Linked DNA regions of Homo sapiens: region 2 is linked to region 1. Evidence: fine-mapped expression QTL. A gene starts in region 1. The other region holds a variant in brackets. All regions are shown on one strand. Distances are from middle to middle.

The links. PIP is the estimated chance that this variant, and not a neighbour inherited with it, causes the effect. A credible set is the group of variants that fine-mapping cannot tell apart.
Region 2: its variant is the best candidate, but not a certain one, in a credible set for the expression of SUGT1 in lymphoblastoid cells (GTEx, PIP 0.89).

The regions. Positions count from the first base shown.
Region 1 is chr13:52,651,130-52,654,052 of GRCh38, reverse strand. It overlaps SUGT1 (SGT1 assembly cochaperone of MIS12 kinetochore complex), which reads right to left and starts at 1,217. Exons shown (of 13, transcript NM_006704.5): 1 at 1,095-1,217; 2 at 950-1,007. The coding sequence starts at 1,132. SUGT1-DT (SUGT1 divergent transcript) reads left to right here and starts at 1,746. Exons shown (of 1, transcript NR_170300.1): 1 at 1,746-2,748. RefSeq lists enhancers at 737-856, 966-1,467, 1,577-1,916 and a silencer at 1,217-1,486.
Region 2 is chr13:52,558,603-52,561,525 of GRCh38, reverse strand. The region is part of intron 2 of LINC00345 (long intergenic non-protein coding RNA 345); the gene reads left to right. It also overlaps the pseudogene TPTE2P3. Among named protein-coding and RNA genes, the nearest start is that of LINC00345, 40 kb to the left of the region's middle. The variant C/A (reference allele first, on the strand shown) is at 1,403.

The sequences.
Region 1 (2,923 bases):
AAGATCTGCACTGGCTCTTGGTCCTGCCTGGAATATTCTTTCCCCAGAGCTTCCAAGTTAATTCCCTTGTTCCTTCAAATCTCCACTCAAAGATCTCCTCAACGGAGGCTCTAGTACCATGTGGCACATTTCTTATAAAAGTCATAGCTAGAAAAGACGCTGTCTTGCCTCAAATTGTTAAACGTAACAGCAAAACAGGTTTCCTCTTTTCTGTGATTTAACGCAAAAACAAACAAAAACTCCTGGCTAAATTCTGTGACCCGCAGCATCATTTATCTTTAGGTTCTCCTTTAATTCTTATTATTTAACTCTTGATCTTTTACATTCCTTTACAGCTTTATGGTTTGCCTTCATTGCACACCTACAAAAAGTGATTTCTAGGTTAGCTGAGTATATAACCAAGACTTTAACCCACAGCAATCAGCGCCTTTGCACACAGCCACTCCAAAAAAAAATTTTGATGAATATACAAATGAGTGAATAATGAATTGTGATAAGACATCTGGAAAGTTTCAGGGACGTGAGGGAAAAGGGTTTTGCTCCAGTAGACTGACTTCATACCGACACTTTTACGTAAGAATGGCAAGAATTATTGTCAAACGAAAAAATTAACTTCATCGAGCCCAGAGTCCACTTCTCTAATCATAAATGTCATTAAAAAAAAAATCCTTTCAGCCAAACTACAAATGCCAACCATGCTCCCAAGAAATAGAGGAGGTTTTTCTCAGGAGCTGTAGGGAGTGGAAAGGGCAAGACAGGAGTCTGGGGTAACGCGGCTACCGTGTAACAGAGAAAAGAGACGGAGAATCTCAATACCGGAGCTGAGACGCAGCATCAACAAGAGCCTGGGTCCCTGTCCGGCGGTGCGGGGAGAAGGCGGGTCAGCGGGGACCCGAAGTGGCCCAGCTCCCCTAAGAAGAGTGGAGGAAGCAGAAATGGGCTCTCTCACCTCTAACGCCGCCTGGGGGTCCTCGTCGATTAGGGCATCCGAGAAGCTCTGGAAAAACCTGTCAGGAAAACAACGACTTCAGCAGGGCTCACTAGCCAAGGAAAGGGGGATAAAATAAATACCAAAGGGAAAGAAAAACATGCACCTCTGGGATGTTGCAGTTCCTGCTGCAGCCGCCGCCATCCCTCGTAGTCGCTGTTGCTGCCGCCGGAGCTGCTACTATCACGGTTACCACCTCCACCACCGCCCAAGGGGGAAACTTCTGGAGAAACACCAACCGAGCTTCCGTCCTAAATAGCCAGCGAGCAGCCACGCAGCGTGCTGCTAGGGGGACGGGAGGCGACACGCCGGCGCGGGGCCGGCTGGGACAGTGGAGGACCGATTCCTCCCAGCCGCACCCCGGCCCAGGACCCGCGCTCCCAGTCCCCGCCCCTCGCAGCCATGGTTACGGAGGCCTGGGGCGTACACGTTCTTCCTCCCTTCCACCGCGCCCACGCCAGCGGGCACTCCCACGGAGCTTTCAGTAGTACTTTAGAAGCACTTTTGTAACGTACTGTCATCCCTAAGGAACGTGTGGCGGTTAGGGGCGTTTGTATGTCTGTTAATAACGGAAGCTACTTCGAGCTCCCATTTTCCCTAGTTTTTATCATGGCTGCCACAGCTAGCCAAGCCCTTTCGCCTCCATTACGTCTTTAGCGGCTGCGTGGTCTCTTCCGGGAGCAGAGGCCCGGATGACGCGTGGATCCCCGCGATCTTTGGGCTGGGGATTCTAAACGACTGGGACTTGCCGGAAGTCATTCTGCACTAATAGCGGCAAAAAGCCTTCTGGTTCCTGGGGCGACGCGCCCGGCGGCCGTACTATTCACTTCCCCAGAACGCCACAGCCCAGGCTTTCTTCTTAGTGGGCTTCCCAGACCAAGAAGGGAAACCTTTCATCCGAAGGTACTGAGGGGAGGAAGGTGGCCTGAAGTTATCTCAGTGCCGCTTTGTTTCCCACCCCAGTCGGTCAGCCCTTCCTCAGCGCCCTTTAACCCTTGCAGATCGGATGGAGAAAGCTGCCAGCACGTTCTAGGGATGGGGGCAGATTGAGGAGCGGGAGGGAGTAGTCTTTGTCTAACTTTATACCAGTACCAAACTATGTTAATTTAATGTAGTTTTATAATAAATCTTTAAGTCCTGTAACTTATTCTCCCAAGATTGTTTTGGCTTATTCTACGGCCTTTGTATTTCTAGGTGAATTTTGGAATTAGCTTGTTAAAAAGGGGGGGGATTTTTTATTGGGCTCGCATTGAATCTATAGATCTGTTTGGGAAAACTAGTATCTTAACAACAAGTCCTTCAATCCATGAATATCATTCTTCCCCCACCATTTATTTAAGCGGTCTTTAATTTCTCCTGGCAATATTTTGTAGATTGCACATATATCTATATTTTAATGCAGCTGTGCTTGGATAGATTGCAGTATAGAGATCATATATATCTTTCATTAGATTTATTCTTGAGTATTTAGTGTTTTGTATACAATGTTAAATGGCATTTTGACTTTTTTATATTCTACTCGTAAGAATAAACAATATTGATTTTAACATACTGACCTTATATGCAAGCATCTTGCTAAGTTCCCTTGTTATTTGTAATACTCTGTAGATTCTTTCGGAATTTCTGTGATCAAAATCTTGCAATCCACGAATAAAGATGGTTTAACTTCTCTGTAACCTTTATACCTTTTATTTTTATTTATTTTTGCCTTTTGTTGCTGGCTAGTGTTTCCACTATTGAATAAAAACAGTGATAATGGACTTCCTTGTCTTGGTCATAACATCAGGAGGAAAGCATTGAATATCAACTGCTTTTTCTGCCTTTATTGAAATGTTCATTTGTATTTTTTAATGTTACTGTGAATTACCTTGGTTAGTTTTCAAATGTTATCTAAATGGCCAATTGTCCTTCTGGACCCCACTGACTCCAGTTGGG
Region 2 (2,923 bases), 93 kb after region 1:
GAAGTGTACACTGATGGCTGCTGTTGCCACTTCTAATTCAACACTGTACTGAAGGTTCTAGCCAGTGCTAGGGGGGAAAATGACTGAAAAGGAAAAAATACAATGTATTATTTTCACATGATATAACTGTGTACTATAAAATCCAAAAGAATCTATAGATAATTTAGTAGAACTAATAAGTGAGTTTAGGCTGGGCACAATGGCTCAGGCCTGTAATCCTAGCATTTTAGGAGGCAGAGGCTGAGGCTGGCAGATCACTTGAGCCCAGGAGTTTGAGACCAATCTGGGCAACATGGCAAAACCCCGTTTCTACAAAAAAATAAAAAAATTAGCTGGGCATGGTGGCACCTGCCTGCAGTCCTAGCTACTCGGGAGGCTGATGTGGGAGGGATTCCCTGAGCCCAGGGAGGTTGAAGCTGCAGTGAGCCATGATCGCATCACTGCACTCCCGCCTGGGTGACAGAATGAAACCCTATCTCAAAACACACAAACAAACAAACAAACAAAAAGTGAGTTTAGTCAAGTTGCTAAATACAAGATTAATGAATAAAATGAACTGCATTTAAATCAACAACATTTAGAAAATAAACATTTTAAAGGGATATCATTTAAATAACCACAAAATATCAAATATCTAGGAATAAATCTCATCAAAAATATGCAAGCTTTCTACACAGAAAATGAGAAAACATTGTAAAGAGAAATGGAAGGAAACCTAACTGAATGAGAGAACATCTCTCTTCATGGGTTGGATGGGTCAATATTGTAAAGATTCAATTCTCCCCAATCTATAGATTCAACGCAATTCCAAACAAATTTCTATCAGGTGTGTGTATTTGACCAGCTGACTCCCAAATTTTTTTTTTTTTTATACTTTAAGTTCTAGGGTACATGTGCACAACGTGCAGGTTTGTTACATATGTATACATGTGCCATGTTGGTGTGCTGCACCCATTAACTCGTCATTTACATTAGGTATATCTCCTAATGCTTTCCCTCCCCCCTCCCCCCACCCCATAACAGGCCCTGGTGTGTGATGTTCCCCTTCCTGTGTCCAAGTGTTCTCACTGTTCAACTCCCACCTACGAATGAGAACATGCGGTGTTTGGTTTTTTGTTCTTGCGATAGTTTGCTGAGAATGATGGTTTCCAGCTTCATCCATGTCCTTACAAAGGACACAAACTCATCCTTTTTTACAGCTGCATAGTATTCCATGGTGTATATGTGCCACATTTTCTTAATCCAGTCTGTCATTGATGGACATTTGGGTTGGTTCCAAGTCTTTGCTATTGTGAATAGTGCTGCAATAAACATGCGTGTGCATGTGCCTTTATAACAGCATGATTTATAATCCTTTGGGTATATACCCAGTAATGGGATGGCTGGGTCAAATGGTATTTCT[C/A]GTTCTAGATCCTTGAGGAATCGCCACACTGTCTTCCACAATGGTTGAACTAGTTTACAGTCCCACCAACAGTGTAAAAGTGTTCCTATTTCTCCACATCCTCTCCAGCACCTGTTGTTTCCTGACTTTTTAATGATCGCCATTCTAACTGGTGTGAGATGGTATCTTATTGTGGTTTTGATTTGTATTTCTCTGATGACCAGTGATGATGAGCATTTTTTCATGTGTCTGTTGGATGTATAAATGTCTTCTTTTGAGAAGTGTCTGTTCATATCCTTCACCCACTTTTTGATGGGGTTGTTTGTTTTTTTCTTGTAAATTTGATTGAGATCTTTGTAGATTCTGGATATTAGCCCTTTGTCAGATGAGTAGATTGCAAAAATTTTCTCCCATTCTGTAGGTTGCCTCTTCACTCTGATGGTAGTTTCTTTTGCTGTGCAGAAGCTCTTTAGTTTAATTAGATCCCATTTGTCAATTTTGGCTTCTGTTACCATTGCTTTTGGTGTTTTAGACATGAAGTCCTTGCCCATGCCTATGTCCTGAATGGTATTGCCTAGGTTTTCTTCTAGGGTTTTTATGGTTTTAGGTCTAACATTTAAGTCTTTGATCCATCTTGAATTAATTTTTGTATAAGGTGTAAGGAAGGGATCCAGTTTCAGCTTTCTACATACGGCTAGCCAGTTTTCCCAGCACCATTTCCCAGCACCATTTTTTAAATAGGGAATCCTTTCCCCATTTCTTGTTTTTGTCAGGTTTGTCAAAATCAGATGGTTGTAGATGTGTGGTATTATTTCTGAGGGCTCTGTTCTGTTCCATATCTCTATATGTCTATATCTCTGTTTTGGTACCAGTACCATGCTGTTTTGGTTACTGTAGCCTCGTAGTATAGTTTGAAGTCAGGTAGCGTGATGCCTCCAGCTTTCTTCTTTTGGCTTAGGATTGACTTGGCAATGCGGGCCCTTTTTTGGTTCCATATGAACTTTAAAGTAGTTTCTTCCAATTTTGTGAAGAAAGTCATTGGTAGCTTGATGGGGATGGCATTGAATCTATAAATTACCTTGGGCAGTATGCCCATTTTCACAATATTGATTCTTCCTACCCATGAGCATGGAATGTTCTTCCATTTGTTTGTAACCTCTTTTATTTCGTTGAGCAGTGGTTTGTAGTTCTCCTTGAAGAGGTCCTTCACATCCCTTGTCAGTTGGATTCCTAGGTATTTTATTCTCTTTGAAGCAATCGTGAATGGGAGTTCACTTATGATTTGGCTCTCTGTTTGTCTGTTATTGGTGTATAAGAATGCTTGTGATTTTTGCACATTGATTTTGTATCCCAAGACTTTGCTGCAGTTGCTTATCAGCTTAAGGAGATTTTGGGCTGAGATGATGGGGTTTTCTAGATATACAATCAAGTCATCTGCAAACAGGGACAATTTGATTTCCTCTTTTCCTAATTGAATACCCTTTATTTCTTTCTCCTGCCTGATCACCCTGGCCAGAACTTCCAACACTATGTTGAATAGGA